Homo sapiens: one gene and its partners. The protein of the gene in region 3 interacts with the protein of the main gene of each other region in a pairwise test. Each region holds a gene or a part of one and is shown on either strand. Other genes may lie near its edges.

Region 1 (7,445 bases), on a different chromosome or scaffold from region 3:
AAAACTCCCAAGAGTCCCTCAGTGCCAAGCTCCAGCATCACCTCTTCCTGGAAGGAATCTCCATTCCCCAGAGGGGTCACGTGCCTTCTCTGGATGTCCCCTGCACCCTGTGTGACCCCAGGATGGTGCAAATCACCCTAACTGGCTGCATCTGTCACCCCACCAGCCTCGAACCTCAGGGGCAGGCCTGGTGTGGGAGCACCCACAGCCAATCCGGGAGCCCAGTAGGATGAGCAAGGCTGCAGTCTCAGAGACACTGGCCATGTTGACCTGGGCTGGGACAGTCCTGTCTTCCCATTCACTTCCATGCTCCTGGGACTGGAAGGTGGTGACTGGTGGCCTTCTTGATTGTGGGCAGCAAAGCCCTTGGGACCGTGACCACTGAGGGCAAGATGTGTCCTACCTGGCCCACACGTGCTTCTCAAGGGCCGCCACCTCAGCCTACCTCTCGTGGGCTCTGAGTGGCAGAGCTGTGGCCGCACAGTGCTGATGACAGCCCAGTCAGGTTCATAGCCGGGGTCAAAGGTTGGTTCCTCCTCAGAAGCACATGAGTCACCCCCACTGGAGTCCTTAGGAGAGGAAAGGAGCAGACAGTAAGGGGCCATGGATTCAGATCTTAGCCTCGAGGCTACCCTGGAAGATAGCCCCATTGAATAAAGAGGGAAACTGAGGCACAAAGAAGGTACAGCAGGCCGGGTGCGGTGGCTCACGCCTGTAATCCCAGCACTTTGGGAGGCTGAGGCGGGCGGATCACCTGAGGTCGGGAGTTCGAGACCAGCCTGACCAATATGGAGAAACCTCGTTTCTACTAAAAAAATACAAAAAAATTAGCCAGGCATGGTGGCGCATGCCTGTAATCCCAGCTACTCGGGAGGGTGAGAAAGGAAAATCGCTTGAACCTGGGAGGCGGAGGTTGCAGTGAGCTGAGATGGCGCCATTGCACTCCAGCCTGGGCAACAAGAGCAAATTCTGTCTCATTAAAAAAAAAAAAAAAAAAAGAAAAAAGAAAGTACAGCACTTGCTCAGGGTCACCCAATGCAGCCAGAGAGCGAGCCAGGACTTGACCCCATGTCTCCCACTGCATGGGGAGGTCCATGCTACACAGCAGGTGGCTCTGCAGTCAGGCTGCGGAGTGCTCAATGGACACTGTTGTACTCACCAGGTAAATACAAACCAAAACCACAATAAGATACCACTTTGCACTCTTTTGAGACAGTGAGACTGTCAAAAAAAAAAAAAAAAAACAATAACAACAACAAAAAAAACACACTACATTTCCCAGGTTTCTTTGCAGCTGGAATCCAGGACACAGGACAAATTCTACCAACCAGATGCAGGCCAACCTGGAAAGCGGAAGTGATGTAACGCAACTTCCTGGTGCCTTGGCTGTGTTTGGCTGTGGAGCAAGGTGGAGAGTCATCTTCATCTTCATCTTCATCCTCCTGCCCTGGGGCAGCGCAGGTGGTCAGCTCAGCCTTCCAGTGTCTCGTCACTAGCTCTGTGGGTGCCGACTGACTTCCGGCCCCTGGGTGGAACTCATCAGCTCCAATGGAGGTCTCATTCCCCACTAAAGAACCCCCCTACAGAGGCATCCAACTTCTCCGTGTGCCTTGAAGGTTGTTCTGCTGTCCCTGAAATACCTTCTTGTCCTTTCATATCCTGGGAGTCCCAGCTCAAATGTCTGCTCTCCCAGGAAGCGTTGGGGATCTGGAATCAGACTGTCTGGGTGCAAAAAGTTCCAACACTTCCTAGCGTTTTCGACCTCATCTATCAGTTTCTCAAAAAGTGAGTAAGGGTCAGGGCTTAGGTGGGTCTGGATCTGACTTATCTCTGGGTCTCAGAATTGCCCAGGACGGGGTCCAGCCATGGGAAGTCCCAGGAGACATAACGAAGGGAAAGCCGGGAGCAGTGACGAAGTGGGTGAGTAGGCTGTCAGGCCCTGTCCTCTGGCACCAGAGGAAATGCCATTTCCCTTCAAGCAACTCGAATCCACATCTTGCACCCTGGCAGGGATCTCCCAAGAAGCAAAGGGAGAGAGGGGTCAGCCGTCCCCACGACCGTGCGTCTTATGCTCCCTGCTCTTTTTCCTTGAATGGGCATCCTCTGCCCATTTCACAGAGAGGAGCAAAAGGAGAGGCAGAGTACCCAAGCCTAAACAGGGTCACACATGCCCCACGAGTAGGTCTGGGATTGTACGCAGGTCCCTCAAATGACTTACAACAGCACGGACCTAGAAAAAAAGCGAGTGGAGAAGGGCAAAGCGGGTGGAGCCTACCTTCTTGGAGAAGAGGATTTGGGTGGAATCTCCAGCCTCCTCTACAGGAGCCCAGTGCAGGAGGACGTCATTGTCCTAGGGTAAGGAGGGAGGCGGGGTTAGAGGCGCTCCCCAAACCACATTCCCAAAACTTTCCGTTGCAAATTTCCAAACTTTCCCAGTTTCTACCCTCAGCCTTTCAAAGTCCCGCCCCTCATTCCAGTTCCCACACCCAGCCTTCTTCAGGTCCCACTGCTGACCGCCAGACCAAACTCCTACAGCTGCCGCCTGCATCCCAGACCGCCTGCATCCCGCTCGGAGCGGGTCCGAGCCCTGCTCCCTCCCAGCGCACCTTTTCCACGACACGGATGACACCAGCGATGAGAGAGTCTCGGTCCTGATACTTCTTAGCGCTGGTGTGCAGGTACACTCCGCCCTTCTCAAACACCACCTGAGTTGGGGGGAACCAGCGAGGGCTGGGGCCCAAGCGAGGGGACCAGCCTGGGGAGCCAATAGGGACGGGCCCAGGGAGGAGCCACCCTCAGGGGGCGGGGCCGGGAGGGCCATTGCCCCGGGACCAAGGCGGGGAGAATGGTCCAGCCCGCGTTCGGATGCTGACGTGCGTTCCACAGGGGGCAGGGCTCAAGGAGTCGCCTGAGCCGGGGGGGCGGGGCCATGGGAGGTTCTTCCCTGGGGCGGTGGACGGGAGGGTGACGGCGCGTTTATAAGAGATCGGTGTTTGCCAAGGCCGTGCCGGATTCTCGAGAGCCAAGGCCTGAGAGAAGAGCTGATCACTAGACGGGGCGTTTCGCATACACTGAAGCGAGGGAATGCGTCCTCAGTGCTTACCCTGTAGCCGGCTCCTTCCATAGTCGCCGCCGAAGGCCCCACTGCCCCGCCTCCTCCTTTTCCTAGTCAGCGTGTTGTCACTTCCGGAGAAAACAGTTCCCCTCCGGGCCGGACAGTGGTAGCGGCCCGACCCGTTCTAGAGAAGGAGCGGGTGAAACCATTTTTCAGAAGGGGGTTATTCCACTGGAACCTCGAGGGTGGATCGGAGTCACGTGGCGCAGACGCTGAAGGTGGATCCGGCTACGGAGAGTGCGCAGGCGCAGTGTTCGCCCTCTCGCCACGAAGTAAACAAGTGGGAGGGTCTGAGAGCTGCACCACCTGGGGCAAGCACGCCTTGAAACGCCCACTTCCTTCTCCATATTGTATACTGGAATTGAAGCCAAGGAGGTACCATTTTGCTCGAGGGCATGGCCTAAGCCGGTCAGCTAAGGCCATGTTAATACGGGGCTGTCCCATCTCTCTGCGGGGCGCGACAGCTGGAAGAGCCGAACGGATAAGAGAAGAGGAGGTGAGAGGAGCTGTACACCACAAGAGGCACTGAGGGACTCAGGATAACGGGATGAAGCCGTCAGTGCCCCCAGAAACGAAGCGGCCCCGGACGAATTTCTGAGTCACCGTCGCGAGAAAGCGGGCTGAGCCGCCATTTTGAAGCCTGGCAAACCGAAGCAAGAAATGCTGCCGTGTTGGATCTTTGCCAGCCTTCGTGCCGAATGGGAGCAGGTTGGAGGGAGGGAGAGCCAATATACACTATGGGCTGATTAAGCCCGGTTGGCTGCCATGTTGTTAACGAGCACCGATTTCCTCTACTTTTGTCGAAGAAGTTTATTGTGGGTCAGGGACGTCAGGTCGCTTGCCTTCGTTTACTGTGGTCATGATTGAGCATATGAGGACGGCCATTATTGTTGGGGGCAAATGGAAATGCTCTAGGCGGGGCCATTTTTCTTAGGGGCAAGCTGTCGTCACCCTTGTCAACTGGTTCGGATGAAGCCCCTGTGGCCGCCATCTTGATCTCGGGCGGCCCCGATAAGGGAGGCGGAGTGTGCGGAGAGGAGGCGGGGCAACTGCGCGGACGTGACGCAAGGCGCCGCCATGTCTTTTGAGGGCGGTGACGGCGCCGGGCCGGCCATGCTGGCTACGGGCACGTGAGTGGAGGCGGCGTTGTTAACCGCGGTGTGGGGAGGATTTGGCCGTCCTGAGGCAGCGGGGCGCTGGGAGGGCGAGCGGCTCACGGGAGGGGTATGGCCTGCACAGATCAGAGGGCAGAGGTCTGCCAGCGATCCTTTGCTGAGCGCTGGAAGGGGGTCGCCCGTGGGAATCGTCCTGTCAGACCTGAGGCAAATCGTAGACAGTCTCACCTTGCGGTTCCAGAGCGCCTGGGATCTCTACCTGGGCCGTGGACCACGTCCACGGGGTCGGGGGATGGTTTGGGGGGCCTCGGGGCGCCCCTCACCCGTCCAAAGGCGGGACTTCCGGTCCTGGCCTCCGTCTGGGCGGGATTTCCTGTTTTCTTCCTAGACCAGTGGGTCCTCCCTGGACCCCGGGCGAGGTTGGGAGGTCTCGGGGCAGCTGAGCGTGGCCCCAGGCGCTCACCCCATGGCTACCGCGTTCATGCTCAGGTTCCTCACATCTTGGGGTGTGGGGTACTAAAATTTCGACAGGAGGGGTGGTTCCACCCCTCTCCTCCTTAGCTCTTTTCCCTCCTCCCTGCATCCAAAGAGGACAGCCACATCGTGCTCCCCCTCCTGTGGGGAACACGTCTCACTTTCCTCTAATCTCTCCCTGATCTTACACGAAACTCGTCTATCGGGGCGGGTTCTTCCTCCATCTCTCAGCTCCTTGGAGGAAACAGGACCTCCTCTAGAAGCTGAAGGGTAAGGAGGACCCCCAGGTCTTGGCTACTCTCCTGTTGGGTAGCATTACAGGGTGCCCCTGGACCTTGGCAAAGAGGTCTGTGGAAGTCGCCCTGTCCTTTTTGCTCATGTCTCCTGAGTTGGGGGAGCCCTCACAACTCACTCACCCTATTTCACTCTTTAATCCCGTGGCTACTCCAAGATTGAGTACACGGAGAGTTCATCCTGACGTTCTCTTCCGGGACCTCCTCTCCCCCTCTTCTCCGCATGTCATTAGGGGCTGGAGGCCCGTGGAAGTGAGAGCCCCAGGCCTAGCACGGCGAGGCAGTTGACTTTGGACCAGCCATTTCTTGCTTAGAGCCTCAGTTTCCTCCCTCATCAGCTGGGAAGGACATGGGTGTGTTTGAGACACCGGGTACCCCCCAGTTCAGTGGGGTTTTGGGGCTGGGCAGTCAGCAGTTTCAGCCCCACTTGTGCCCTGTGTAGCTGTGTGCTTTTTTGCCAGTGTCCTAAGCTCTCTGAGCCTCACAGTTTCAGCCCCACTTGTGCCCTGTGTAGCTGTGTGCTTTTTTGCCAGTGTCCTAAGCTCTCTGAGCCTCACTTTTCCATCTGGATTAGAATATCTGCCCTCCTAAAGGCAGGCAGGATGGCGGTCAGGATTTAGAACAGGCCCCGGATCTAGACTTTCTGAGTCCAGGTCCCAGCCCTGCCTCTTCCAGTTGTGGCCCTTCAAGATGCTGACTGCCCCTGGGCCTGAGTTTGCAACTGTAAAATGGGGTGAACTGTAACTAAAGCTCCTGTCTCATAGTGTAGGTGAAAGGGTGGGATGAGAAGGTTGATCCCATCTTGGGTCCTTGCGTGGCTTCTGGGAGGTGGTGGATAAACCTCTTCCTTCCCTTGGGGCTTTGAACTCCCTGAGTGAGTCAGATAGGTGAGATGCCAGGTGTGGAATCCCAGCACTGAATAGGTGCTCAGCAAACACCAACATCAATGATCGTGAGTCATAAAAGGCCTGCAAATTTCATTCAGACTCCAGACTCCCTGCTCCCTTCACCCTGGTGGGCTGGACCACAGCTGTGCCTGAATCCGTGCAGTGGCGGTGTGCTTACTGCCTCCCGGAAGAGCGTCTTCCGCAGCCCAGCAGCTCTGGCTCAACCACGCTGGTTAATGGGGAAGAAAATGAGGCACAGAGAGGGCCAGTGAGCCATCTAAGGTCACACAGCAGGTTTGAGACAGAGTCAGGGCAAGGACCCAGCCCCCCTGCCCTCGCTCTTCTCACCCAGTAAGGAGACGCACCCTGCATTGTCTGCTTAGGGCCGACCTGTCCTGCAAACACAAATCCCTGACCTTGGGGGAATTCACAGTCTGATGCAGGAGGCAGCCAGGTTACAGCTGTCACAAGCTCAGGTGACATGAATGCTCATGGAGGAAGCCCAGGGCATCGGATGGGCTCCTGAAGTCATCTGATGCACCCTGGGGGATCAGGGACAACAGAGGACCTGCCAGAACAGTCTTGTAGGAAAAGCCGTGTGGATTTCCCAGCACAGAGAGCAGCGCCAGCACCATTTCAGCCCCGACTCTCTGAGGCCTCAGTCATAGAACCAGCCAGTTCCCTCTGGAAGGAAGTGTGCTGGGAAGGTGGCCACTCAGACAGTGTGGGACCCCCTATGGAGCAGACTGGCTGGATCTATGGGCGAGGGAAAGTTTCTTCCACCCTAGGATGAGTGAAAGGTTGGTGGGGAATGGAGCACAAGTCATCAAGGTCAGGGACCACGTTTTCTGAAGGCCTCGGGCCTCAGAGGCTCTGGAAGGCCGTGGAGGCAGGATGGCCCAGGAGCTGGGGATGGCCAGAACACCTAGAGCCTCCAGGGCCTGCCCTGAGGACTATGGCGAGGAGTAGCATCAGCTCCGGGTGCTGAAGGAACCCCCTGGGCCTTGTGCAGGACACTCTTGACGGGATGGCTGGGCGACGGAGCAGGGTGGCATCATCCATCAAATTCAACACAAGCCCCACGTGGAATTCTAAATTTTCTAGACACCATGTTAAAAGAGTAAAAAAAGCAGATGAAATTCCTTTTTTTTTTTTTTTTTGCCCAGGCTGGCTTCGAACTCTTGGGCTCGGTGATCCGCCTGCCTCGGCCTCCCAAAGTGCTGGGGTTGCAGGCCTGAGCCACCACGCCCGGCTCGTTCGGCTTTATTGTACTCAGTCTTCAGAACCCAGTGCAGGTTTTATTGTTAGAGGCCTCTCTGCTAGGACTCTCTGCTAGGACTCCCTGCCTTTCCAGTACTCCCTGTTCACATGTGGCTGGCGGCTCCCACAGAGGCCAGGGCAGGGCCAAAGGGGAAGGAGTACAGTGACTTGGGGCAGGAGGAATGGGTTGGGGCAGAGGACGTCGCCAGGGTCTGGGCCTGCGAGGACTGGATGGTGAGAATCCTGGGGAGTAGCAGGTTTGGGGAGGACACACAGCACCGCTGGGACAAGGTGGGTGGAG
Region 2 (8,225 bases), on a different chromosome or scaffold from region 3:
ACACAAACCGAGCAAGCAACAGTGCTGTTGTCTTCACCTTACCTCAAAAGTGTACTACTTACAGGACAAGAGAATAAGCCCCTGAAGAAGTACAAGCTGCAGGAGCTCAAAGCTGCATTTGTGTTCCTATCGCAGCAGGATTCACACTGTACTGGAACTGTTGCCTCATTATCTGTCTCTGGAACAAACTGTGAACCAGTCAAGGGTAGTCACTCTTATTTATCTTCACATTCCCAACAGCCAGTAGTGCCAGGCAAGGAGCAGAGGCTTCTAAACAACAATGGAGGCAGATTTCTTAATCCCTAAAATGTTCAGCTTCCCACATATGAGAGGTAAGCAGAAATAACGCATGTGTATGCACACAGACTAGTTTTACAATGCATCGTGCAGCACTGCAAACTAAAAAGGAGTCCATGAATAGATGTGTCTAAGGTCAGTTAACTGCTATTCAGCTCTTCCTGGGTCACTCAGTTCAATTACAAAAGCTTTGGTGTTCATTTAATTCATCCTGTGCAATCACATTACTGAAGCAACTCTCAAAATTACTCTTCATAAAACTAGAAGAAACACACAATAGATGGTTTATTAGGATCTTTTCCTTTTAGTGAAACATTTTAGGTCACTGATGACAGAAAAGCCCGGTGCTAGATAGCTGGGCTAACTTGAACCATATCCCTAGTACAGGCAAGTTGCCTGGGTTCCAGTCCTGGCTCTGTCACTTTATGGTGTATAATTCTAAGCAAATTACTTCTCTGCTCCTTAGTTATTTAAATAGAGAATGTACTTCAAGACTATTGGGAGGATTGAGTGAGTTAATATATGTAAAGCATTTAGAAGAGTCCCTGGCACATAAAATCCATGAAACAGGCATTTGCTATTGTTTTTATGCTTTGCACATAAAATGAAGGGGATGGATTAGATTCCTTCCAGTTCCAAGTCTAGGAGTCACCTTGGGAGTAAAGCTACATTAGGCACAGGTCACATACAAGAGAGTAGTATATAAATATGCTCTGATGATCATTAAAGACCTTCTTAAAGTCAGCTTCCATTCTGCACAACAGCACCATCAAGAGCCCTCTTAAGGGTGATGGCCAAGTCTCAAAAGCAATGACAAATAAACTTCCTATATTAAAAGGAACATATTAAATAAGAATGATAATATCTCTAAACCTCCTCTGCCACATACAAGTTCAAAGTTATACACCATGTAGATATGACAATGTTAACTCTAAAGCACCTTGAAGATCACCTGCTCCCTCCCTGTCTCTCATTCTGTAGATGTTCTGTAGATTAGGAAACTGAGCCAGCTACAGGGTGGAGATGAAGAGACTCACCCACATCACATCCTAAGTGAGCGTGAGAGCCAGAATTAGAACCCAGGTCTCCTGACTTGCTCTACAGTCCTGTCTACTTCCTCACAGCTGGGCAAATCCTTTAAGCCACTCACAAACAGTGTATATTCCTTTATGTTAGAGCTGGAAATTAAGAATATGATCTGTTTGTGAGGACAACATCAAGAATCAGTTAGTATAATCACTGTAACCTGGCTTAGGCATCACCATGTAGGTTAGAAAAGCAGGATATTTCTGTGCACCTCAGTTTCCATAAGTGCAAGGCAAACAGAGATCCTTGTTCAAAGTGATCATTTAAAATCTCACATTGCTATCTTCAGATTCCACACAACAGATATGAACATGGACAAAATGCCTTCTACCAAGGGCTTTAGTCTGATTAAAATGCCAGGAGTCTACAGCCATATAAAAAAGGGAGGCCTTGAAAAAGTCGTCCAGAGGATGCAAACTTACCAAAAAACAAAACAAACAAACAAAAAACACACACACAGCTTGCTTCCAGTTCCTTACTTATCTACACTAGGAGGATCACAAAAAATGAACAAAAGACACCTATGCATACAGCCCTTCGGACTTATTCTGAACTGTCGATGTAGGTAAATCCATACAAGGATCATCCTGGGAAGTATTATTCACTTAGAAGAAAAAGGGAAGGAACCCCAAAAGAGAGGGGAAAGTGTGAAACGAAAATAGGTTAATCTTATTCTAAGTTTTCAAGAGTTGAGACACTAGGAAATAAAGGCACTTATTTAAATAAACCCGGGATGCTGAACCAGGAGTGTAGGTACGAAGCTGGAGAAATGTTAAACAAAGGAGAACAAAAGACCCCTGGGGAAAGATGTGCTGAATTATGAACTAATGTCATCCTGCACTCATTTGCTATATTTACACACCAGTTTTCATCTGCAGAGCTCAAAGGACTTGACTCTCATCTCGAGTGTGCTAATGAAGTTCCCTTGTGCGACAAATGGGGCAGGTACTGTATTTTTCTCTTCACTAATGGGAAAACGGTGCCAAAAGGAGGCCTGGTACCGCCGGAAAAGAGATCCAGGCCCTCTGCCTCTCATTCTGGCTGGCACAAGTCTCATCACATCATTAGGAGTAGCAGTAATAAGACTGACTCATTATCTGTACCGGACATTGTCTGCTGACAACTTTACAGGTATTTCTCATTGACTTCTCCTAACAACCCTATGAAGCAGGCACAATTATTATTCCTATTTTACAGACGACAAAACTAAGGCACAATAAGGTGGTTTTCCTGAGGCACTCAGCTACTACATGGAATCAAAGTTTAGATCTCGCAGACTCAGTTGCAGCTGAGCTTGCAGGGGGGTCACGACATCAAGACTCCGGCCGCGGGGCTCTCTCCCCTGTTCCACAGCTCTGCCCCGGCTCAGGACTCAGGGCCCGGCCCGCCCCCTCCTCAGCCCGAGAGAACCCGGTGGGAGGCGCCGCGAGGGGGCCGGGCGCACTCCCGCGGCTGCCCGGCCGGGGGCGCGGCCTCCACTCCGGGGCTGGAGGGGCCTCCTCGGCCTCACCCCTGCGGGCGAGGGGCACCGGAGCGGCGGGAGGTACCTGGGGGCTGTCCTGCAACGCCTCCTCTAGCAGGAGCTTGTCCACGGCGGGCATGGTGCGGCGCGGCTCAGCCGAGGGCTGGGTTGGAAGGACAGAGGGCAGGAGACGCGGCGGCCGAGAGCACTCCCCGGCTCTGGGCTCAGGCGACGCGGCGGCCACTCCGTGCCCGCGGCGGCCCCGCGCGCGTCCACGCCTGGCCAGTGGCCGCCGCCGCCTGCCCGCCGGCCCAGCCCCCGGCCGAGCCGGATCAACAGGAAGTGTGGCGCGCCCGGCAGGGAAACCGGAAGTGTGGTGAGCTCCGGTCCCGACACCGGAAATGTGGCGCCCGCGCTTCCGCCTGCGCTCGCCGGCTCGCGGGGAGCGGGGGGCTCTGGGTGCCAGTCCCGTTGCTGAGGGAACCCTTCGGGTGTTTGTTCTCTGTGCTGAAGGTCCGTCAAGTCAATGCATATGAAGTCCAAAAGAGGAACTCGAGGGTAGAAAGATAAGGTTTTATCTGCTTATGGCTACCCAGAAAGCCTTTTGAGTTGAAGGAGCGAACAGATTTTTTCTTTTAATGGAAGGAAAAACCCACACTTCCCACACCACTTTTTCTAGATAAATTTCGACGCCCCTGAAACAGCTCTGAGAGCAAAGAGGTCGCCTATGCTATGGGAACAAAGAAAAGAGGAGAAAAGCTGGATAACTGACTCGTCTGTGATAATCAGAAATAACCACTTTGGAAACCACAGCTATTTGATGTGGTCATAATTAGGTCTCGTCCTCCTGGTTTATGTTTTGTGATTTTGGAGAATTTCATAATCAAATGTTTAGAATTGGAAGGGCTAGATAATCTAGGTTCCAGTGTTGTCATTTAGAGATGAGAAAATGGGACCCAGAGAAATAAGTGGTCTGCCCAGGGTCAGTTAGTAAACGCCAGAGGAAGAAAAGAAGGAAGGGAGAGGGATGGAAGAAGACTGGCAAGTGGAACGTGACACCTTTTTACACGGAAGGCAAGGGTTTCTGAAGTTCCTTCTTTAGAAGTTAATAAGACTGGCCGGGCGTGGTGGTTCACGCCTGTAATCCCAGCACTTTGGGAGGCCGAGATGGGTGGATCACGAGGTCAGGAGTTCAAGACCAGTCTGGCCAAGATGCTGAAACCCCGTCTCTACTAAAAATACAAAAATTAGCCGGGCGTGGTGGCATGCGCCTGTAATCCCAGCTACTCGGGAGGCTGAGGCAGAAGAATCACTTGAACCCGGGAGGCAGAGGTTTCAGTGAGCCGAGAGGGCACCACTGCACTCCAGCCTGGGCAACAGAGCAAGACTCCGTCTCAAAAAAAAAAAAAAAAATCATGCAGTATGTGTGTCACCAAAATCAACAGAGGGGATATGGTAATATATAAATTCTGCATTCTGCAGAGACCTCTTAGGTATATCAAGACCCAATCTGCATTGCTGACACCTCTGACAGTCTAGTATAGTAGCATGCTGCCTGATCACTTGAAAACTCCAAGGCCATTATTCCCTTGGTCTGGCCAGCGCCAACCTGACCTGAACCATTTTATGGCCTCCATCTACCATATTTTCCTCCACAGTATTCTTTCTTCCCTATTCTTTCTTGCCTCCACCATACTCTTGTCTTCCCTATAGGTGGAATCATGCTCACACCATATTTCTTCCCTTTCCTCTATTTTATACCGCCTGCCATTCAGTTCATTTTACCTCATCCAGTGTCCCAGACTCTCTTCTCACTGAAATCTAATTCCTCACGGCCAGACTCATGCTCTTCCTTCATCCTGATTGCGAGAACAGTACAAGGATAGTATTATACCCAGGGAAATAAATGTGCACATTTTAATTTGAAAATATGCATTACAAGAAGTTAGTGCCCTCAGAACCCTTGAAAGGGCTCAGACAGCCCCTTGGGAATCACAGCATTTTTCATGTACCACCTCATCTTCTAATTAAAGTTACTTTTCTTCAAATACTAGTATTCAACATTCAAAAATTGTTTAAGCTATCCCATTACTTTTCTGCATTTTCTTGCTACATTATGGGCTAAACAGCCTTAGTGGGATTTCTTGGAACTTAAGAACTGTTTACAACATTGTTTCTATGGGAAAATCTATCCCAAATTCAAAACAACTAAGTTACAAAAGTAGATCTGGAAATACAACACATGCATAAATGGTTTTAATTTATCTCATTTGTTAATTCATCCAATCATTCATTCATGTATTAAATATAGACTGCTCAGTGTTAAGCACTGTCTCCCACTTGTTTGATTCTCATTTAAATTCTGAAGGCAAATATCCTCTCCTTTGATAATCTGTGAGAAACTACATAAGAGGAATTTTTATGTCAACATGAACATTTAAAAATGTTTCATTAAAGAGTATATATCTGTTCCTATTAAACTATTATGCAGGTGGATTTTAGAAATCCACCCCACTGTCTCTGAAATCCCTGGTCAGCTGTGAAGTTGGTGACAGGAAGTATAAAGATGGACAGTCTGGAGTTGTCGTGATGTCTGAAGAGAGAGAGGATGAATTATATGGAGGTGTAACCTGTGACCCATTGAAGGCCAGTGGGGAAAAGGACACAGTGAGACACAAAAAAAGGACCCAGGATGGCCAGGTCAGAGAAGGCCTGGGGCTTCAGGAGTAAGAGAGAAAGGCAGGAGTGAAGAAGGCAGCTGTTTTGGGAGATGCTTAGCAAACTGCATGATAGGGCACACGCATTGAGATTCTTTCCTCTGCCAGTCAAGCCCTTTCTCCTGCCTCTTGTCTGACAAACCCAACCACAATCATCAAATCCCAGTTTAATGTGACTTTTTTGATGAAGTCTTCATTTACTCCTGTCCCCCCAAGCAGAATACATTTTCCTTTCCTTGAGTGTGCTTCAGTAGCACTTGCCGAGATAATTCTAGAATAACACTTACCTCTCTTTGTTTCCACCTCCAACCTTCCAGCTAGAATGGGTAGGAACTTGGTCTTATTTATTTCTGTAATTAGAGTGCCTAGTACATTACCTAGCACAAAAGCAGTTGCTTGATAAATACTTACTAAACTATAATGTGTTATTATAACTTATACATGATTGATACTCCAGAGTTTAAAAAATGTTTTCATGAATCTCATTTCATTTGATAGCACAATGCTGCTTTTGCCGTTAATCATTCACTAGGTAGCACCGACTGTGTGTTAGACTCTTCTCTAGAAGCTGAGGATATAGGCTGAAGCAAAAAGTAGTCCTTGCCCTAATGGAGTTTATATTCTAATGGAGGAAATAATAAGAAACAAATACAAGTTGATAAGTGTATGATAACCTTTAGTAAAGGAATAGAGGATCATGGGAAGTGGAAAGGATTCTTTGAGGTGTGCAACTGTTGAGCTGAGAATTGAATCAGGGAAGCCCAGCCCGAAGGAAAGAACAAGTGTGAGGGCCCTGAGGCTTGCTCCTCTTTGAGGAGGAGCAGAAAGGCCAATGTGGCTAAGGACAGCGAGGCGGGAAAGAGTGGGAGGAGATGAGGTTGAAGAGATGCCAATCACTGGCTCACAGAGGACGCTGAGTCCATGGGGAAGGACTTTGGGTGTTGCTCTTGATATGGCAGGAAGCCACTGTAAATATGAGCAACTGAATGACAGGGTCTGATTTACATTTTTAAAGACTATCTCTGGGTTCTGAAGAGGCTTTTGCAATCCTTCAAGCAAGAGATTTGAGAGATATAGGTCAAAGTCGAGGGTATGGAAATGTTGGGAGGTAGTTGAAGTCTGAACATATTTTGAAAGTAGAACTGACAGGATATGCTGGATGTAGTATGTGAGAGAAAGTGGGAAAGCCATTGGGCAAATGGTCCTGTGATTTACTGAGACAGAAAACCCTGGGGAGAAGCAGGTTGTTGGTGGTGGCGCATCAATAGTGCTGTTCAGGCTGTTGTGATTGAGATGCCCGTTAGGCAATCAAGTGGAGGTTTCATGTGGGTACTTGTATATACCACTCAAGTTTAGGAGGAGACTGGGGCTGAAGGTATAAATCCATGAGTTCACCAACATGGGGACGTTATTTAAACCAAAAGAGTAGATGAGATTTCTTAGGAATCTAATACAGAAAGGAAAGAGGAAAGCTTGGTGGATTGAGGCCCAAGCAAGATCCAGCAGCTAATGGTGTAGGAGGAATATCAGGAGACTAATAGACCACCCTAGAAGCCCTATGAATGGGAAACTTGGAGGCACTACTATACTAAAAGCCAGGGGACAAAAGGTTTCAAAAATGAATTGATCCACAATGTCAAATGCAGCTAAGAGATCAAGTAAGAATAAAGACCAGAAATTGACCTTTAAATTTGCCAATAGGAAGGTCATTCGGTGAATTTGGTAAGAGACTTTGATAAGAGCAATTTTATTTGAAAGCAAGATGGTGTCTGTTCAAGAGCAATGGTGGGAATACAAAGACAATTCTTTCAAGAGGTTTTTCAATAAAGGGAAGTGGTTGAAGGGGAAGTGACTGCAGGGGATGATTTAAAAAAAGGGAGGTTTTTGGTTTGTTTGCTTGTTTTAAAATAGAAAAGTTGTAGACTTTAGGCAAGGTATTTAATCTTTCTGAGCTTCAGTTTACTTCCCTATGATATGAGAATGGCATTACCAATCACAAGTTGTTTCCATACACACCTGTCTCTATGTCCTGTATTAGTCAAGACTTTTTAAGTGGCAAATCACAGAAACCTAACTCCAACTGGCTTAAAGAAAACATAAAAGTCTGAAAGAGATTGGATTTCTTAGATTATTTATATGCTGATGAGAATGATCCAGTAGAGTGGGGGAAAAGCTAAAGATATGAGAGAGAGGTGACAATTGCAAGAACAAAGTCCTTGAACAGACAAAAAGGAGTAGAATCCAAATCACAAGTGATAGGCTTGGGAGGCTGAGGCAAGTCGATCACTTGAGGCCAGGAGTTCAAGACCACCATGGTGAAACCCTGTCTCTCCTGAAAATACAAAAATTAGTCGAGCATGCGTGTGAGCACCTGTAGTCCCAGCTACTTAGGAGGCTGAGGCAAGATAATCGCTTGAACCCAGGAGGCAGAGGTTGCAGTAAGCCAAGATTGCACCACTGCACTCCAGCCTGGGTGACAGAGTGAGACTCTTTAAAAAAAAATGCAAAAAACAAATCACAAGGGATAGGGATGGCCTTAGATAGAAGCAAGGACAGTACGTTCATAGTGATACAAGAACAGTAGGTTGGTAGATTAAATGGGAGGAATGAAGGCGTTCTATTCTGATTGCTTTTATTTTTCTCAGTGAGATAAGAAGCAAGGC
Region 3 (7,299 bases):
CGCTGGGGAAGACAAAAAAACAGAGGAGCGCTAGTGATGAGGAGGGCTAAAGAGTTAAGAGTCTGCCCTTGTGCCGTGGCGCACTCAGTCTGCATGTTCATTCATTTAACGAACAAACCAGGCCGAAGAAGGGCCCACTGTTAGATCAGGTCACATCTGACCCCAAATCCAAGCCCCAGCTCTACTACTTTCTAAATGTATGATCGATCTTAGGCAAACTACTTAAGTTCCTTCTGCATCCCTTCTAAAGCAGGGACACTTGCCTTATCTTACTCAAAAAAAAAAAAGTAATAATAAAAATTAAAAACAAAGTGGGGAAACAAGCCCCACTATTTCCCAAGGCACCTATGAGGAATATGTATGAAAATAATTTTGCAACCTTAAAATGATTTTTAAAAATTAGTGTTACTGTCCCTCTACAGTTTAACAGCCCTCTAATTGTGAGAGGCAAGAGGGCAGGGGAGGAACAGCATCAGAAAGGAGGGGTTCTGTCGCACACGGAGCCATCGCTCTCTCTGCCAGGCAGAGTCAGACCTCTGCTTGGACTCTATAATTTCTAGGTGCCAGAAGTGGCTGCATAACGACCCAAAGCACTGGGGCCTGCCTCGTCTCTCTAAATGGCAGAGCTTCCCCTTCAAAGTCGTTTCAGGTTGGGTGCAGTGGCTCATGCCTGTAATCCTAGCACTTTGGGAGGCTGAGGTGGGTGGATCATCTGAGGTCAGGAGTTCGAGACCAGCCTGGCCAACATGGTGAGACCCCATCTCTACTAAAAATACAAAAATTAGCTGGGCGTGGTGGTGCATGGCTGTAATCTCAGCTACTCAGGAGGCTGAGGCAGGAGAATCCCTTGATCTCGGGAGGCAGAGGCTGCAGTGAGCCAAGATTGTGCCACTGCACTCCAGCCTGGGTGACAAAACAAGGCTCTGTCTCCAAAAAAAAAAAAAAAGTCGTTTCAGAGTCAGAGCTGGGAGAGCATGTCCAGACAAAGAAAAGAAGGTCTCCTCAGAAGGCTGGTCGGCCTCATCCCAGCACTCCTGAAGAGTGACAAACTGCGGTCTACTCCTGAAGACCTAAGTCTGGTCAGAGACCAATGGCCAGTGAGCAGTCAGGCCTCTCTGGCCCTGCCCCTCAGATGCCCAGGCTGACCAGATCAGAGAAACTAGGTTGGTTGAAGAAGTCTCCAATGAACCCCAAAGGAACCCACACAGATACAGAGCCTGTGATCCAGCTGTTGACCCTAATAAGGAAGGCTTCTTCTGTTGTCCGATAAAAAGTGAAATAAGTAGGCCGGGCACGGTGGTTCACACCTGTAATCTCAGCACTTTGGGAGGCTGAGGCGGGTGGATCACCTGAAGTCAGGAGTTCGAGACCAGCCCGGCCAACATGGCGAAACCCCATCTCTACTAAAAATACAAAAATTAGCCGGGTGTGGTGGCAGGCGCCTGTTAATCCCAGCTACTCAGGAGGCTGAGGCAAGAGAACTGCTTGAACCCAGGAGGCAGAGGTTGCAGTGAGCCAAGATCACGCCACTGCACTCCAGCCTGGGCGACAGAGCAAGACTCCATCTCAAAAACAAACAAACAAAAAAGTGAAGAAAGTACATCCTAGCTCTACTCAAAAGACTGTAGGAATCAGATACTAGCCACTGTCCAGAAGCCCTCAAACACACCTCAAGGCCAAAAAACACAGCACTTTTAAGTGGCAAGCGAGGGTGGTAAAGGTAGCCCAGAACACTGAAGAGCTACAGAAGTTCCCACAAACTGCACGGCTTTCCGTCCCTTCCTCCACTGTAGATAGCAAGGGTCAGTCATGGCCTCAGAGCCAGGCTACTCCTCGTTAAGGTACAGTCTCCGGCCTGTACTTTGGCCACATAACAAAGCTTGGTCTGAGACAGCAGCTATTTCACACACCTAAGCCCCAAGCAACAGACAAGGATCAGTCAATATGGTTGAGGGAACCTGCACTTTCTGGCATGTATCGGAATTCCTCAGGCTACAATTAAAAATCCAGAACTGCCATTGTGATCTTGACTTAGTCCTCAGTAATAAGTCCAAGCCCTGAAGGGATTGCAGACAGACCCTGGCGTGGTGTGGACCTGTTGCTCAGGGAGGTGTATGTGTGTGTGTTTGGGAGTGGGAAAGAGATGGCCCTTCAATTCCAGACTCCTCATTTTGGGTCTTATTCTCCTCCCTATAGACACACGGACAGCAGTCCCAAGAAAAGCAGTCCCTTTGAGGCGGCTGGGAAACCACTCACGTGCTCTGGGAGGACAGAGCTGAGCCTGGAGCAAGGGGGGAGGGGAAAGAAGATAATGAATGGGCACATCCACCCTGATCTGTGATCTGTAGCTAGGATTGAGCAAACCTCAGCTAAATTCTTCAGAGGCAGAAAGAGAGAGACACTCAAAGAACAACATAACTAGAGGACAGGGCTGGGAGACAGAAGGGGCAAAACAGGAAAACAGCTCATTTCTAGTAAGTGACTTTAAACTCAGCTGAGGTCCTGGTTGGTTCTCTGGCTTGAGGAAAGAGAGGAAGTAAGGAGTTGCGGGAGCGCACACACACTTCTGTGCGTGTGGAACGGTCTCACCCAGACGACCCCCCTCCCCCAAAGGAAATCGAGATATTCCTCTAGGGCTAGAGGGGACAACTGGTTTTGTGGGACAGGAGGAAGGAAAACGGCGACAGACAGCACTCCCTGTCACTTCTAAAAGAGAAGAGGGACAGGTTCCTTCACACCTAGCAAAGATCCTCCGATTCTGGAAGCAGGGGGAGCGGAACTTAGGGTACCTCTCTCCCACAACTAGAATGGACAGGCCAGAGGACAGTCATAGCGGTTTCCTTAAGGCTCACCAAAGGCAGGTAAGCTAAGGAAAGAAGCTCCCCACCTCCTATGGCCCGACGCCTGGGGAGCCCCTCAAGAGGGGGCTACGGGTCGGGGGAGGGGTCAGTATCCCCCTAAACTGGGGCTGGGCGGGAGGAAGGGCTGCCCTGGAGATGCTTCAACGCAGGCGAGACACCAGGTCCTGGGACAAGCATACTCACGGCGGCTCCGGGGCGGCGGCGTTACTTGGGGCCGGGGCTCGGACGGGATCCGCTTCTCTCCCCGCCGGCGGTGTCCCAGGCTCCGGCCTCCACTTCCGCCTTTCAGCCGCTCCGGATCCGGATCTCCACCTCCGCCCCGCCCCTCAATACTCCCAGGTGATTGACAGTGCGGAGACCAATGGGAGGCACTCTTGGCCGACCTACCCAGCGGCGCCGGTAGGAACGCGGGAGTGGCGGTAGGGAGCGCGCGAGGGATCGCGGGACTTGTAGTTCGCAGCGCTGGGAGGAGTCAGTGGCTGCCTGGGACTTGGGCTTAGGGTGGAGCCGGCTGACTGCGAGGCGGAGCCCGGCCGGAACTTTTTTTTTTTTTTTGAGACGGAGTCTTACTCTGTCGCCCAGGCTGGAGTGCAGTGGTGCGATCTCACTGCAACCTCTGCCTCCCGGGTTCAAGCGATTCTCCTGCCTCAGCCTCCCGAGGAGCTGGATTATAGGCACGCACCACCACGCCCGACTAATTTTTGTATTTTTTAGTAGAGACGGGGGTTTCGCCATGTTGGCCAGGCTGGTCTCGAACTCCTGACCTCAGGTGATCCGCCCTCTTCGGCCTCTCAAAGTGCTGAGATTACAGGCCTGAGCCACCGCGCCCAGCCTACGGCCGGGAACTTTTTAAGGCTAACCCTGCCATCCGCGTCACCGCCGGTTCCGGACGCCCCGAGGGAAGGCGGGTGGTGGAGCGTTGGAAGAAGGCAGAGGATTGTGTGTGCAGAATTGGGAAAGAAAAAACGTGGTGCGAATGAATATGCACGCGAGGCCTCAGTCCTGTGAACTCGCTGATCTGGAGAAGCCCTTGTCTGCACTGTCCGCCCGATTGCCAGGGGCGTCTGTGATTGGGAAGGTGAGGAAAGCGCTGCAGGAAGAGTTCTCTGCAGGATGCTGGGTGAGATCAAAGGGAGAGCTTCTGCCACCACCTCCTACTTGGTGTGTGCGGGGGCCGGCACAAAGACCATCTCTGCCTCTGCCTTCCCCTGCTCCTAGCCAGGGTCAGCTCTTCTCTCTGACGCGGAATACAGAGCTGGACAACCTCTGCCTCGGCCCTCTCCATCCGTAAATAAAGACTAGAACCACCCCCACTCTGCACTCTCCCCCTCTATGGATCAGGAATATTTGTTTTTTCTGCTCCTCTCAATATGGACTGGGCCCGCTCCTGATTCCTCCCACCCTTACCTCTCAACACAAACCAGTACCTCCTCTTCTTTTGCATCTCATCCTCAAGGGACACTACTGAAAACCTGTGTGGAATCAAAGCTCACCGGAGACAGCTGTGGCCATTGTGCCTATAACGCCAACACCAGGCATATCCTGGAGCCTCAGCTGGAGAATTTACCTGTCTTGGACAACCTGCCACAAAACTGTGCCCACATCTAGTTCCATCTGGTCATCAGGGCGTCTCTCTTTCTTACACCCATAACACACAATCCCCACTTCCGCGCCAGTGTTCATGAGAAGTGAAAAGGAAGAGGGAAGAGAGGGCTTGTTGGGAGGACAGAGGGGATGGGGCAGAGTGGGATTCCTAGCAGGTTCTGGCTGGTGACAAGCTCTTCCCCCAGCCCCCTTGCCATACCCAGTTCTGGAACAGTTCCTTATACAGGAGGGATGGGTAGTCCCCTAGGCCCACCTTTCCAAGGCTGGAGGTGGGCCAAAGCCAGGACTCTGTCCTTCCCACATACTGTGTGCATACATGGCTGTGACTGGGGTGCAGGGGAGAGAAGGGGGTATAATAGGCCCATAGTGACTAATTAAGTTTCTTCCTCAACCCTGGGGCCCCTGGTGGTGTGAATGTGGTGCCAAGTAGATTGGCTGGTGCCTCTGCCCTTCCTAGAGATAGCAACTGGGCCCTGGGGTACAACGAAGGTGAGGGTGGGGAGTGATTGCTGTGTTGGCTCCTCCAAAGCCCTGGGGCTCTCAGAGTAACCCCCAGAAACACCCAGAGCCAATAACTACAAAAATAAAGAGTTTATTTCCTATCCAAAAGTGAGCCCAGGGTGTTGGGTGGTAGAGGAGAGCTGGAGACCTGGGCGAGTTTTGGAGCAGTCCAGGCCCTGAGTGAGACCATGTTGTAATGGGGGAGAACAGGCTTGGCAGCGGTCTGGGGTCAGGGAAAGGATAGGGAGTGCTGTTGGGATTTTTGAGTTGCTAGCAGCAGAAGAGACCACCTTGAGAGACAGCCTGCAGAGAGACAGAAACAGAGATGTTGACAGACCCACGCCTAGGAGTAGAAGCAGACATTACTGGGCCCAAAAAGCACCTGTTGGGCACAGGGACCTGGGAACACACTGTTAGGTAAGGCAGAGGTTGCAAACTCAACCCCTGGGCTCCACCCCGGACATTCCAAATTGGATGAGGCCCAGGAATCTGCTTTTTATTTTTTTATTTTTTTGAGCCTCCGCGCCTGGCAGAATCTGCGTTTTAATAGGATCTCAGGTAGTTCTGATGGACACTCAAGTTTTGAGAACTCAAATACCCACAGAGACCAAACAAAAATTTCAAACAAGGGAAGCTAGCTGGGTGTCGGGAGATGATCAAGAAACGTGGTGACTGCGAAGTAGAGTGCAGAGCAGATCCCATCTAAAGAGGACAGTGGCCACCCAGCCCAGCTGATTGCCAGTTATTGCCAGATGGAATGTTGGCCCACGGTAGCCTGATGTCCTGAGGTTTTTTTTGTTTTGTTTTGTTTGAGCAGGGTCTCACTCTGTCACCCAGGCTGGAGTGCAGTGGTGTGATCACTGCTCACTGCAGCCTCAACCTCCTGGGCTCAAGAGATCCTCCCACCTCAGCTTCCAGAGTAGCTGGGACCACAGGCACACACCACTACACCTGGCTAATTTTTTAATTTGTATAGAGATGGGTGGGGGGGGTGTCTTGCTATGTTGCCCAGGCTGGTCTTGAACTCCTGGATTCAAGTCATCCTTCCACCTCAGCTTCTGGAGTAGCTGGAACCACAGGCACTCACCACTACACCTGGCTAATTTTTATTTATTTATTTATTTATTTTTGAGGTGGAGTTTCACTCTTATTGCCCAGACTTGAGAGCAATGGCACGATCTCGGCTCACTGCACCCTCCACCTCCCAGGTTCAAGCGATTCTCCTGCCTCAGCCTCCCGCGAAGCTGGGATTACAGGCATGCACCACCATCCCAGCTAATGTTTGTATTTTTAGTAGAGATGGGGTTTCTCCATGTTGGTCAGGCTGGTCTCGAACTCCAGACCTCAGGTAATCCACCTGCCTCGGCCTCCCAAAGTGCTGGGATTACAGGCGTGAGCCACCATGCCCAGCCTACACCTGGCTAATTTGAAAAATATTTTGAAAAATATTTTTCAAAATAATCCCAGCACTTTGGGAGGCCGAGGCAGGTGGATCATGAGGTCAGGAGATCGAGACCATCCTGGCTAACATGGTGAAACCCCGTCTCTACTAAAGATACAAAAAAATTAGCTGGGCGTGGTGGCAGGCGCCGGTAGTCCCAGCTACTCGGGAGGCTGAGGCAGGAGAATGGCGTGAACCCGGGAGGCGGAGTTTGCAGTGAGCCGAGATTGCACCACTGCACTCCAGCCTGGGCGACAGAGTGAGACTCCGTCTCAAAAAAAAAAAAATATTTTTATAGGCTGGGTGCGGTGGCTGACACTTGTAATCCCAGCACTTTGGGAGGACGAGGCAGGCGGATCAGGAGGTCAGGAGATTGAGACCATCCTGGCTAACATGGTGAAACCCTGTCTCCACTAAAAATACAAAAAATTAGCCGGGTGTGGTGGCGGGCGCCTGTAGTCCCAGCTACTTGGGAGCCTGAGGCAGGAGAATGGCATGAACCCAGGAGGCGGAGCTTGTAGTGAGCTGAGATTGCACCACTGCATTCCAGCCTGGGTGACAGAGTGAGACTCCGTCTATAAAAAAATATATATATATATATTTTTTTTATAGAGATAGGGTCTCGCTATGTTGCTCAGGTGGATCTCAAACTCATGGACTCAAGCGATCCTCCCACCTCGGCCTCCCAAAGGGCTGGGATTATAGGCATGAACCACTGTGCCCAGTGCTACATTTTGTAGAGAAATTGGAATATCTGTATTCCTATATAACCTGTCTCTTTTTTTTATTTTGAGACAGAGTCTCACTGTCGCCCAGGCTGGAGTGCAGTGGTGCGATCTTGGCTCACTGCAACCTCCGCCTCCCGGATTCAAGCGATTCTCCTGCCTCAGC

What was found. The genes of interacting proteins can lie anywhere in the genome.
Region 1: the proteins of RAB5C (region 3) and TBC1D17 interact in a two-hybrid assay, tested with the Homo sapiens proteins (one study listed by BioGRID).
Region 2: the proteins of RAB5C (region 3) and APPL2 interact in binary tests that used the Homo sapiens proteins (3 or more experiments, as listed by UniProt).

The regions. Positions count from the first base shown.
Region 1 is NC_000019.10:49,873,403-49,880,847, reverse strand, and holds the start of TBC1D17 (TBC1 domain family member 17), read right to left. Parts: upstream 3,147-7,445; 5' UTR 3,125-3,146; coding exon 3,104-3,124; intron 2,706-3,103; coding exon 2,607-2,705; exon of another isoform or gene 2,492-2,606; intron 2,351-2,491; coding exon 2,276-2,350; intron 570-2,275; coding exon 446-569; intron 1-445. Other genes in the region: AKT1S1 (proline-rich AKT1 substrate 1), read left to right, coding at 4,193-4,245. UniProt on the Homo sapiens protein: Probable RAB GTPase-activating protein that inhibits RAB8A/B function. Reduces Rab8 recruitment to tubules emanating from the endocytic recycling compartment (ERC) and inhibits Rab8-mediated endocytic trafficking, such as that of transferrin receptor (TfR).
Region 2 is NC_000012.12:105,233,029-105,241,253, forward strand, and holds the start of APPL2 (DCC-interacting protein 13-beta), read right to left. Parts: upstream 3,147-8,225; 5' UTR 2,985-3,146; coding exon 2,931-2,984; exon of another isoform or gene 1-2,930. UniProt on the Homo sapiens protein: Multifunctional adapter protein that binds to various membrane receptors, nuclear factors and signaling proteins to regulate many processes, such as cell proliferation, immune response, endosomal trafficking and cell metabolism.
Region 3 is NC_000017.11:42,151,849-42,159,147, forward strand, and holds the start of RAB5C (ras-related protein Rab-5C), read right to left. Parts: upstream 3,142-7,299; 5' UTR 3,045-3,141; intron 2,862-3,044; exon of another isoform or gene 2,552-2,861; intron 1-2,551. UniProt on the Homo sapiens protein: The small GTPases Rab are key regulators of intracellular membrane trafficking, from the formation of transport vesicles to their fusion with membranes.